4 separate regions of the Homo sapiens genome follow, and all the other regions are reported to be linked to region 1. Evidence: microRNA targets listed by miRTarBase, many of them from high-throughput screens and not tested one by one. Region 1 holds a microRNA gene; each other region holds the end of a gene's coding sequence.
Evidence for each region. The annotated mature microRNA hsa-miR-4464 reads AAGGUUUGGAUAGAUGCAAUA and lies in region 1 at 921-941, opposite strand. An mRNA with a match to its seed (bases 2 to 7 or 8) in the 3' UTR can be bound and repressed. Matches are read on the target gene's strand: a 7mer-m8 pairs with bases 2 to 8, a 7mer-A1 pairs with bases 2 to 7 and ends in A, and an 8mer does both.

Region 1 (3,152 bases):
CTGTCCCTTAAGATGGAAATGTGCCAGTCATAGTTTCTGTCTCTCTTTCCTTAATGGCAGTTCCATGGCATAAGCATGTGACCCAGCAGGGCCACACAAAGGCCCGCCAGAGGTGTGCATATGGACCCTGGGAGAGGAAGTGTTGTTGCCCCTCCCCAGAGATGTGGAGCATAAGGACCTGCAGTAAGGAGCCTGGAGCTGCTGGTGACCACCTTGCCCTTCACATGGCGAGTACCAGCTTGAGTATGAGACCAGCAAAGAGGAAAATGAAGCTGAGAGAGTGTCAGGGACCCCAGATTTGGCAGTCACACTAGGCAAATAGTGACTATAAGAATGGTGGCTTGGAGGGAAATGTGAAACATTCCAGCCCACTGTCCTCATCACAAGGAGTCAATGTTTCATTTCCCCTAAACCTGCTCCTTGCCTTTGTGGTGCTCCTTGTCCACTGCTATCCACCCCAGCCCTGGGCCTCCACTCAAGCCAGGGTAGGGGCCACTGAGGTTTCCTTACCTCCCACCTCACAGGCAGGCATCCATGTAGGCAGCAGTCCTGGTTTCTCTCTGGCCATTCCATGCATCCCTACCACACTAGGGCTTTGAGAAGCATGCATGACTACTCCACTACCTCTGCCCCCTCAATCACCAAACTGCGCCCACCCTGGGTTCCCAGTGGATTACTTCAATCCTAAACAGAACTAATTATCTAAACATTTTGAGAATTGTTCAAGACAAAATATGGCACCAGTATACCACAGAGTTGGATACAAAACATAACCTTATTTATTGGAGATCAGAAGCAGGAGCATTGAAACACACACACACATACTCCTACTACACACACATACACGCAGCACAAAACTCTGAATTAGTAAGGTTTGGATACATGCAATAAAGTATGTCCTTTCAGCTGTGGACATACTTTATTGCATCTATCCAAACCTTACTAAGGTTCCTGATTTTTAATAAACTTATAATAGATTGAAGCAATTTTTATTTGCTGTTCCTGATTTTTAATAAACTTATAAAATAATAGATTGAAGCAATTTTTATTTGCATTCGATTCCACATTTGGGGCCAGATTCTCTTTGTGCCTTCTTCTTTGAGTGAACATCGAATGTCTTTGGATGAGCACTGGGCTCTGTCAGGCCATTACAGTTACTGTTTTAGAATACTAAATGTGACACTAGTGACCTAGTGGCATTAATGCACCTTTCAAAAGTGCCCAGTTTTCTCCTTGGAAGTAATTTCAGCAGTGATAGGCTACAACTGAGTAATTTCTGATAAGCAATTAGCACATATCAAATCAATGCACATTACTCAAGGTTTTATACTGCTAGTGGAGATATAGCAGGGGTTACCCATTAAAAAGCATCTGTGAAAAACTTCTGCTGTTATTATGGAAGCAGTGGGCAATATTCAAATCGAGGCAACTCAACCATTAAATAAATGTATTTTTAATCATGAAATGTCACTGTTCTACAGACCTGTTTTTCCTATTAACATGTGGGAGATAATGTTAATGAGATTTAGTTAGTGTTTTAAAAGCAATTGAAGTCTTATTATGAAAGGCAGCAGAAAAGGACACAGCAATATTCTTCTAAGCTGTGAATCACTCCATATCTGTGTGAAATCGAATAGTGTAGAAATCTACATGGGAATCATCTAAGCAACAAAAACATAGAAGACTCCCAAACACTCCTACTCTATATCATTTTTCATACCTAAAATGAAATAAGAAAGCACACTACGGTTGGAAATTTTAATGGGGGGAAGGCCCCCATGTTGATATTTCAGAAAACAGTTCATTCTTGAAGTATGAATGTATTTGAGGTATCAGTCATTGTGTTTACCCATCAATAGTGACTCTAAAGAAAGAGTATCCTATGCACAGCAGATGCTGAACGTGAAGGCCTGGGTGACCATGATTTGTTCCTTGGGACACCCCTCCCCTCTCGCCACCCACCTCAAGCTGGTAAATTGATTGGACCAGGGTTGGGCCAAGGCAGCCAATCCATGCCCGGCCTGTGTTAAATCATAAGTGGAGCCAATCAGATTTTTCCTCACATGCATTTGAACTAAGATCTAATAAATAAGAAAATAGGAGTTGAAGCTAAAAGGACAGATATAGAATGGTCATGAAGAGTCATATCTTTAAAAAGGGACACATTTGTTTTTAAAAGTTTTAGAAAACAGAAATTATGAACATAAAGGGATATCTTGGCTGGACCCCAAGCCAATGCTCGAATTGGCTTGTCTGTGAGGTGGAAGAAGCCCTAGAGATCCTCTGTACATTCACAGAACATGCAAGGGCCATGCAATAAGAATCCAGCCACATTCCTCAGTTTTCCTGGGTTTGCACACACCAGCATGTCTGTTTGACAGGCCAGAGAAGGAGAGAAGGAAAGTGACACGGGCTAAATTGCAGGGAGCAACTAACCCCTGGAAGGAAAACCCCCAAAACAATGAAGAAATCCAGTAGGGTGGACTAGAAGAAGGGCTTGGGTGTGGGATGAGAAGAGTGGCTTTGAATACAGTCTGAAGCGCCATCTGAAATCCAGACTTTCCTTCACAATCTCCACTCCCAGGGAGGAGTGGTGTCATCCAACCAAAAGAACTCACACACACATACACACAGCACACCACCCCACAAAACTCCAAATTAGTAAGGTTTGGATAGACACAATAGAGTGTGCCTCTATTGTGCTTCCCATGCTTCCCATGGGAATCATCGTCCCCCACATCACCTAGACCAGAGGAGGCTAGCAGAAGCAGCCATTTCCTTAGGAGGGAGATGCCCGCAAGTGAGCGAACAGAGGTCCTGGGGTGTATTAGAGGTCAGGGTTGGCCAGCACCTCTGTGGAGCAGCATGGGCCGTGCTATCAAGCAACATGAACGAGGGCTGGAGTGGCAGCCAGAACAGCCATGGCAGAGCCACAGAAGCTAACAGAGCCATCTCCCCAATCCCCCACTGAGTCCAGGCAGAGCTGACGTTCTGCCACTTGGCAAGTGGAGACTAGTAATCCAATGGATGCATGGACAAATTACTCCAGGAGACTTACCCAGATGCTCAGTGGATGGGGCTGAGATTCACATCATGACTTCCCAAGTAAACAGAGAAAGCTGGTCAGAAGTTCAAGGAATGGAGCAGAGATA
Region 2 (3,000 bases), not on the chromosome of region 1:
GGGCTTGGGTTTGGATGGTGGGGAGAAAGGGAGCCTCTCAGATTTAATCAACTAATCAATGTATCTGTGTGTTTCAGGTCCAAACTGCTTTGCAGGAACGACGATAATTCCAGCTGGCATTGAAGTGAAAGTGGACGAATGTAACATCTGTCATTGTCACAACGGGGACTGGTGGAAGCCTGCTCAGTGTTCGAAACGTGAATGCCAAGGCAAGCAGACTGTGTAGGACAAACTTCCACCCAATGATGAGTTCTTAGGAAAGGATGCTATGGCTTCAACACTGCACATGTTTAACACAAAACAAAACAAACAAACTCCTGCCAGCTACAACAGGGTCACCAGCAAAACTTTCTAGGGTTGACAAAAGTGAATATTTTCCTAAGAGGAAATTTCTTTCTCTCTTGCTATATAAAATATATATAGTATATAGCTATCTAAATCGCTTTTGTATTTACCAATGCTTGATGGTGACTTGACGACTGGATTGCTGGAACAAAAAGAAAGAAATAGCCTTGCACAGGCTCCTTCCCTGGTAATGCCTCTGACCTACCAGCTCACTGTCCCCTGGTTTACTTCATTTTTACTCTTCTGTACATTGTACATGGCATTGTTCTCCTGTAATATTTGTTTTTTCACTTTTAGAGTCTAAGGGGCTAAATTTGACTGCACAGTAAAGTTTTGAGTTGTGTAAAAAAAAAAGTTTGGTAAAGGAATGTCAGGGGAAATATCTTTCCCGAGCTGGGAAACACAAGAGCATCCAGTCAATTGCTCCCCTAGGGTGAATCATGCCCTGTAGACTAAGGAAAGAGGGGTGGGCACATAGACGGGCCTATTGCTGGACAGGGTTGGGAACAAGTACTTTGTCCATTACGTGGGGGCTCACAATTTAATTCTTACAAACCACACATTTCATATGGAAAACCTCGAAACTGCCAATCAAAATCTATTACGTAAAGAACACCATAAGCTCAACTAAAGAATCCAAAGAGAGACAGATCTTTAAAATTGTAGCATTAATCATCAGACTTTTTCATGATGTGAAATTTGAGTTTGGTTTGTAGCTAAACACACTCTAAACTCACTGTCATCAGGCAATATAAATACCAGAACCAGGGTGAGAAAACCCACTGTGAATCCAAATCCTTATGAACATCTCTGGCTTTTGAGTTCAGATTTGGCTAAAAGTCAGTAGTACACACTGGCAGTTTTTGTGGTTCGGGACTGTGTTTGCCATGTTGTAGTAACAACCACTCAGCCCTATGTCTGAAACACAGATTCAGGACACCCTTTCCACCTCAAGTGCTGATTTAAATTAAAGATTAGGGTAGAGTGAGTCTTGCACAATACAATTCCATTTGTTGAACATTTTTTAAAATGTATATATTAGATACTGAAAAATTAAAGTGAACCTTTGAAGAGTCTCTAGGTTGCCCTGGTAATGCTGCTAGTATAGTAACAGAAAAAACAAAACACACAGGGTATCTGATGCCACCTCGATTCAAGTGCAAAATTAACAATTCTGAAACCACATGGCATAGTTAGTCGCTTATTCCATGCTCCTGCCCTAAAAACCCTGGCACAGATCTGATAGGGTCCTTGAAGAGACTTTACAGTTGTCTTTATTATCAATGTTCTTTCTTTTTCTGCTCCCCCAACCTGGGCTTTGCCATAGCTCCTGTGGAGAGCCATATTCTAGAGCAAGGTGTCTCAATCTTAGTAGGATTGACATTTGGGGCCAGATCATTATTCGTTGGTGGGGGCTGTCCTGTGTGCTTTTAGGATGTTTAGCACCATCACTGGCCTCTATCCACTAGCAACATCCCAGCAACTGGTGACAACCAAATTTCTCCAGACATTGCCTAATGTCCCTAAGGAGTGGGAGTGAGGGGCCTAATTTCACCTCGTTGAGAACCAGTGGTCTAGAATAATCAGTATAGAGTGGTTTCTGGCAGGGGACACAGTAGGCAAGCTCTAGCAGCACCTGTGGCTTTTGTGAGCTTCTGATCCCTATGGGACATACACAGTCAGCATTTCCAAGGGGTCAGTCTTCTCCATAGAGAGTGAGGCTTCTAATGCTATAGGCCCACCCTCAGGAAACATATTTTTTTGAGTCTTGTCAACTGGTTTTTCATTTAAAATTGTCAGCCTCTCCTCCCTGGAAGCATCTGCTGTCATCAAGAAAGAGTTGTCATTTCCAAAATTAACGTGCTGACGAGTCAGACCTGACATTCTTATGCACACTGTGCTTGCGTTATGATACAAATAGCCATGCCGGCACCATCCCGAGGAAGAGCATCAAGCCACCTTCCCTTAGAACACCAATTTGCAGCAAGGTTGGTGCCTTTCATTTGCCACCATGGATACATCATATAGACAGTCATGAATCATTCATGAGCAATGCTGCATGATTTATGTCTGCACTCAAAAGTAAAGGAATTCCACACTTTAGCTTATGTCTAGACAGAGATGTATTATAGAGCTTTCTTTGCCCCGAGGTTGCCTGTTGCCAACTTCAAAAATCCACACTCTTGGAAAGAAATAATAATAATAAATGACAGGAATAAGGTTTGAAACTCAGAAAATATCATTAATAGAGCCATGCAGCATAGTACCTTATCTATTATTAAGGAGTTACTATGTCCTTTTTTAGAAAACAGAAAGAGAGTACAACTGGGAAGCTGAAGTGCAGAAATTTTGCATCAAAGCATTGGCACAGCGAGAGTCACAGCAAGAATTTACTAGAATTGAATGGGACATCCATTAAGGATCTCTCTTCAGAGAGTTTGCAGAAAGCAGGCTGTTCTGTGGCCTCTGATAACCAGCTAGAGAGAGGGATTTTTATGGTTGGTTTTGTTGTTGTTGGATTTTCTTTTTCTCAAAGTTTCACTGCAGGCTGTTTCCTTTAAGATTTTGTAGCACTGACATTTTTCCCCCTTTAGGGAGAGATGAACCTATACTGTGACAATTTCTCATAAACTGATAAACATTTTACAACTTCCT
Region 3 (3,000 bases), not on the chromosome of region 1:
GATGGTTTCCTTGGCTGTCTACGTCAAGAGCTTATTTAGCGTAAAAACATTGAGTTGTACTGCGCATCAGTTTTTTTCATTCTGTTGACCAATAAATACTTTCAGGACCATAATCCCTTCTTGGCTTAGGCATCTCAGGTGTCAAGGATGATAGAAGTCCTTTGCCTGCGTTTAATACCAATTGTAGCAAGTAGAAGAGTCTTTATGCTTGGAATGACACCTTTGTTTGTGGCTGCCATAGCCTAATGTAGTCAATACGAAATAATTGACTTTTTTTCTTTTTTAACAGGTGAAGAGCAGAATAAAGAAGCGCTGCAGGACGTGGAAGACGAAAATCAGTGAGACATAAGCCAACAAGAGAAACCATCTCTGACCACCCCCTCCTCCCCATCCCACCCTTTGGAAACTCCCCATTGTCACTGAGAACCACCAAATCTGACTTTTACATTTGGTCTCAGAATTTAGGTTCCTGCCCTGTTGGTTTTTTTTTTTTTTTTTTAAACAGTTTTCAAAAGTTCTTAAAGGCAAGAGTGAATTTCTGTGGATTTTACTGGTCCCAGCTTTTAGGTTCTTTAAGACACTAACAGGACTACATAGAGGCTTTTTCAGCATTACTGTGTCGTCTCCGTGCCAGATGTGGCAAGATCACCATTAGCAAATGGAAATTACATTTGAAAGCCATTAGACTTATAGGTGATGCAAGCATCTAAGAGAGAGGTTAATCACACTATAGAGGCATAAGTGGTATCAGTTTTCATTTTTCTAATTGTTTAAACTGTGTTTTATACCAGTGTTTGCAAGTAATTGGGTGTTAGCTTGAGATGGTTAAAGGTGGTTTGGGGAGGGACTTCGTTGTAATGGTTTTGCTGTAAAAAATGTTTCCAACTCCGCTGAAATGTTGCTGAAAAGCATGGTGCTGGTAACAGTTCAACAATCCGTGGCTGCTCATTCTTGCCTACTTTACTCTCCCACTGAAGCAGGTTAGCGTTGAAGGTGGTATGGAAAAGCCTGCATGCCTGTTCAATTCTTTTGTTTCTTCTCCTTCCCCCTCCCCCTACCTCCTTCCCCTCACTCCTCCCCTCCTTCGCTCGCTCAACCTCTTTTGTTCAGTATGTGTAACTTGAAGCTAATTTGTACTACTGGATATCTGACTGGAGCCACAGATACAGAATCTGTATTGTTCTTACTGAAACACAGCATGGAATTAACATTAAACTTAAATAAAACAAACCTAAATTAAAAATGCCAAATATCGCGCCTCCATCCTTTATACTTCTAAAATAAAATCTCTAGTCCAAACACACTGACAGTATTATGTTTGCCTGAATGTGAAACATTCCTCCTTTTTTCTTCCATAAATAATTTGTTTGCTTCCCAAAGATGTATGTTTTGGAAAAAAATTGCCTGTAGTCTGGTTGTGAAGAACACTGAGTCAGTTGATGGTGTGTCTTGTCCTCCAGACCAGGCAGCAACATGGTATTTATTTTAATCATTAAAGTACAACATGAGTAGTACAAGGTGTAATTATGGATCATTTTCTAGCATAGTATTTCATACAACCAAATAAGGCTGAATGTCTTATAATAATTCTTAGAGGTAAAAACTGTGTGCCCTCTTCCTCCAGAGGCTAGTGGCAGTAGTGGAGAATTACTCAATCCTTTCTTAGTAATCCATACACACATTATAGACAGCAGGATAGCAGTCTCCCTTTCCAGAAACACTGTATAAGAAGCTTCTTTCCATAAACAGTTTATACATCAATGTGTATAGATACCTAGTTACTGTAGATCTTTTTATGTTAGGCATTCAGATGTGTCTCATTCTGACTGCGTAACATTGATGTACACCTGATTTTGTTAAGACCAGTTTGCTCCTTTTGGGCAGGTGCTGCAGGAAATACCCTTGGAACAGTTTTTGCTTAAATATTTGTATGTATCTGGAAGGTACATTTCTAGATTCCCTGTGTCAGTAAACATTTTTCAGTTGATAAATCCTTCCTCGTCACACTTGTCTTCTAAAATTGGATGTTGAGACTGCAAGTTTACTCTCGGTTTAAAGTGTTAGTAGCAGAGATTTAGGAAATGAACAGATCAGCGATATCCTAGTAGCGTTTAGTGAGTGCTGGCAATGAGAATAAACATGTTTTTGTGAGTTGCTTTTCCGAGAGATAGGGAGACCATTGAATATAATTATATGCTGCTGTTTGGAGCAACCTCCAAGAAGCTTTCAAGTTGATTTGCTCTGTTTCCAGCACACCTGCTACACTTAAAGGTCAAAATCCAAGGAATTCGTCAAGTCTGTTGCAGAGTTTAAAGAAACCACTCGGCTGGGTGCGGTGGCTCACACCTGTAATCCCTGCAATTTGAGAGGCCGAGGCGGGCGGATCACGAGGTCAGGAGATTGAGACCATCCTGGCTAACACGGTGAAACTCCGTCTCTACTAAAAGTACAAAAAATTAGCCAGGCATGGTGGCGCACGCCTGTACTCCCAGCTACTCGGGAGGCTGAGGCAGGAGAATCGCTTGAACCCGGGAGGCAGAGGTTGCAGTGAGCCGAGATCACGCTACTGCACTCCAGCCTGGGCGACAGAGTGAGACTGTCTCAAAAAAAAAAAAAAGGAAAGATCCTTATCAAAAATTGAAAGGCCGGGTGCGGTGGCTCACGCCTGTAATCCCAGCACTTTCGGAGGCCGTGGTGGGTGGATCACGAGGTCAGCAGTTAAGAGACCAGCCTGGACAACATGGGGAAACCCTGTCTCTACTAAAAATACAAAAAAATTAGCCAGGCGTGGTGGCGGGCGACCTTGCTGGGTGTAATTAACATCCAGTGACTTGGGAGGCCTGAGGCAGGACAATCGCTGGAAACTGGAAGGCGGAGCTTGCAGTGAGCCAAGATCGCGCCACTGCACTCTAATCTGGGCAATAAGAGCAGAACTCCGTCTCAAAAAAAAAAAAAAAAAAAAAAAATTGAAAGGGAGCCAGGGAAGCTGCAGAAAGGTGC
Region 4 (3,000 bases), not on the chromosome of region 1:
AATGCTGTTGTGTTAGCTCTGAGTAGAAAGGAAAAAGTAAAACCTCTGTTTGGAGGTAATATTGGGTTGAATTCTGACTGCCCCTTTCTAGCTGGACCTTTAACAAATCACCCAATCTTTTTTGTGTTTCTCTAAAGTCATTTATACATTAAATGTAATTATAGCAACTGTGGGGTTCTGTTGAGAATTAAGAGCTAACACTATATATGTAAAGTTTCCAGTACTAGTCCCAGAATTTAGAATATGCTCAACACAAAGTAAACAGCATTATATAAGTTTATATTTTTGTGAGTTATAAAGTACTTTGATATATTCTCATTAAATCTGTAAATCACCTCTATAAGTAAGTGGTAATAATAAAGCAGATATTTTTGTCCCCATTTAAAAAATGAAGAAATTAATGCTTAATAGGGTGGTACCCTGGAAAGGATCTGGGAAGTGGTAGAATTTCTGGTCTGTACTTTTACAAATGGAGCCCTTGGGAGGTGGGTTAGGTAAAAGAAGCTTTTTACTTAACGTTGTCTTATTTCCAGTCTAATTTTACGCTGTAGCAGAACCAGATGGCTGAGAAAATTCTGGAACTATGGATCTTGACCCCAAGGATATATTATTTTATTCCAAGAAAGATCAGGTAGGCGAAAAGATGACAGGATACAGAGTCAATCCATAAACTAAATATTTATAACTGTTCTGAATTATACAGAGTCTAAAAATATGTGTCAGCTACTTCATTCCTGTAAATACTCTTGCTGTGTTATAAATATGGCAAGAAATAAACATGACCAATATCAATAGACTTCTTGAGGCTACTATAAGTTTTGAGAAATAAGGTTCAAAAAATAAGAATGCTAACACTTAAGCACAGACTAGAGCTTGCTTGGGTTTCTTCCTGCATTACAAGGTAAAAATTTGTTAATGTTTGTTTTTATTCAGCTTGGGAAAGCTTTGTGCCATGAATACGTCGCATTTAATAACAAGCAACACACGGCATATAGAAATAACTTTAATTAAAAAACTTACATAGAAGATTATAATATCAGACGTGACAAAGATTTGAGTTTATTTGCCTGGACAACTTGGGTTTGTCTGGCTTTTGTTTTCTTTTTCTTTAAAAATAAATGTACAGTAAAACTACAAGCAAAAGTTTGTCAGTATTGAATTGAATTTTTTACCCCTTAAAAGGACTAGTATAATTTCCAATCTCTAACAAAAACTTAGTGTCAAATCTCACAGATAAGGCCAAATGGCCAATATTTTCAGTTATGTGGGTAGTACAACTTGAGTAACCTTTTTTACATGACAAAAAGTGAGTTATATAAATTGTCCTCAACTTTCACATAGGAAAAAAATGGTTTAATAGCTTCAAAAGGAATTTTCTTTCATGTATACTCTTCAGTATCCAATATTGAAGCTTTGTTCTTTGAAAAATTTTAATTTCCAATCTAGGATGCAAGCAAGAATATATGTTTATTTGAATAGAGTAAGCTATGGCAAAGAATGACCAAATTAGCTAGAAATAGAAATCAGCCAGAATTAACTAATTTCTTGCTAATCTAGAAATACAATCATCTTTTTTTTTTTTTTCAAATTTTATACTGATAGGGCTTTACTGTTTGTGGCTCATTTTAAAACTGGTGTCTTCTCTTCATGAGACACATTAATTGGTAAAACTCAAATTGAGTTTTCAAAGATGTGATAGTATTAAAGTGCACCAATATTTGACTCAAATTTGCTTGCTTTATTTTGTTAGGAGTAAACAGAAAGTAGCCTGTGTTTAGTCCCAAAGATAGCAGTGATTTTGAATAAAGGAGTTTTGTGTTGCCTGGATATATGAATTTCTGTAAATAACTTCTGTTGGTTAAACATGTTAAAACAACAACAACAACAACAAAAAACTTCTGTCTCTATATTCAGGACGTTCAGATGTCTTTTATTAGTGGAAACCTGTGTTTTATCTATTCTGCAGCTTACATTTCATAGGGTAGTTCATACATGCATTTCCAAGGGGAGTGGGTCATTGCCAGTGTTTTAAAAACTACATAGGGGTGTGTGTGTGTGTGTATGTTTATTTTATACACACATATTTGTATATTCTAATATATTACTAAGGCAATTTTAATGAATTACCATGTATATAAAAAAATAGCTGTCACTTGGCACACAGGTTTGTATGTATGTGTATATATATATGTATGTATGTATGGTGTGGGTACATAGTCTTAAAAATTACCCAGTAATGTGATTTGACATCAAGTTGCAGCAATTAATATCTTGGTGTTTGTAAGTAAGTTGCATGATAAACACAAATGACTACCACTTGTCTGTAGATGAAAATCTGGTTACCCTTATGGTTCCAGAAGGAAAAACAGACTTATCTTGCCTGTTTCATAAACAGCATAAAAGATTAATACATGCAGAACATGCTCTTATTCTGGAGGGGATGGGGGATCCAGAACAGGGCTTTATTTCCTCCCATCTTTCCTACATTTACATAGTTTTCTTAACCTGTTCCCTGTCACCTATTTTTTTTAACATTAGTAAGTCCTAGACCAAAGGTTTTGTATTCTTCCATTCCATCTGACTGCTTTTTTGGATGGTGGCCATTCTCTGGTACACTGGTACCGAAGATTTCACCATGGAAAGCTGTGCTTGACCTTTCAACCTGATCCTTTTTTTCATCTTGACATAATAAGGCTGCCATGTCTTCACCCTTCAGTGGAAAAGCCCGTCGTTCCCACCACAAAGACTGAAAGGGGAAAAATTTTCAGTTAAGTTTCAACTAACTTGTTTTGTTTAAATTCATCTAACAAGTAATCTGTACATGTCTATATTGTAATAATTGTTCTGTTCTTTAGCACATAAATGTACAATTTTTCATTTCAACTTAAATAGCAACTCAAAATGGAATATATTGAGAATTGTTGAGTGACTTTTGGGATTTATTTCTTTACTTTGCCTCTGCCAAGAAGAGGAAATGCTGCCATAGGCAGTGGTCTTCAT

Region 2: miRTarBase lists VWC2L as a target of hsa-miR-4464. The part of its 3' UTR that is shown has no 7-base or 8-base seed match.
Region 3: miRTarBase lists YWHAE as a target of hsa-miR-4464. Seed matches in the 3' UTR shown: 8mer at 1,227-1,234.
Region 4: the mRNA of KANSL1L is a reported target of hsa-miR-4464. Seed matches in the 3' UTR shown: 7mer-m8 at 2,163-2,169.

What each region holds. Positions count from the first base shown.
Region 1 is chr6:90,310,542-90,313,693 of GRCh38, reverse strand. It overlaps MIR4464 (microRNA 4464), which reads right to left and starts at 952; the gene lies at 861-952. All of the region lies in intron 1 of LOC105377891 (a long non-coding RNA gene), which reads right to left.
Region 2 is chr2:214,575,595-214,578,594 of GRCh38, forward strand. VWC2L (von Willebrand factor C domain containing 2 like) reads left to right here. Exons shown (of 4, transcript NM_001080500.4): 4 at 78-3,000. The coding sequence ends at 226. Among named protein-coding and RNA genes, the nearest start is that of VWC2L-IT1, 67 kb to the left of the region's middle.
Region 3 is chr17:1,342,789-1,345,788 of GRCh38, reverse strand. It overlaps YWHAE (tyrosine 3-monooxygenase/tryptophan 5-monooxygenase activation protein epsilon), which reads left to right. Exons shown (of 6, transcript NM_006761.5): 6 at 290-1,514. The coding sequence ends at 342. Among named protein-coding and RNA genes, the nearest start is that of YWHAE, 56 kb to the left of the region's middle.
Region 4 is chr2:210,020,434-210,023,433 of GRCh38, forward strand. KANSL1L (KAT8 regulatory NSL complex subunit 1 like) reads right to left here. Exons shown (of 15, transcript NM_152519.4): 15 at 988-2,746. The coding sequence ends at 2,516. RPE (ribulose-5-phosphate-3-epimerase) reads left to right here. Exons shown (of 6, transcript NM_199229.3): 6 at 1-1,827. Among named protein-coding and RNA genes, the nearest start is that of KANSL1L-AS1, 8.0 kb to the right of the region's middle.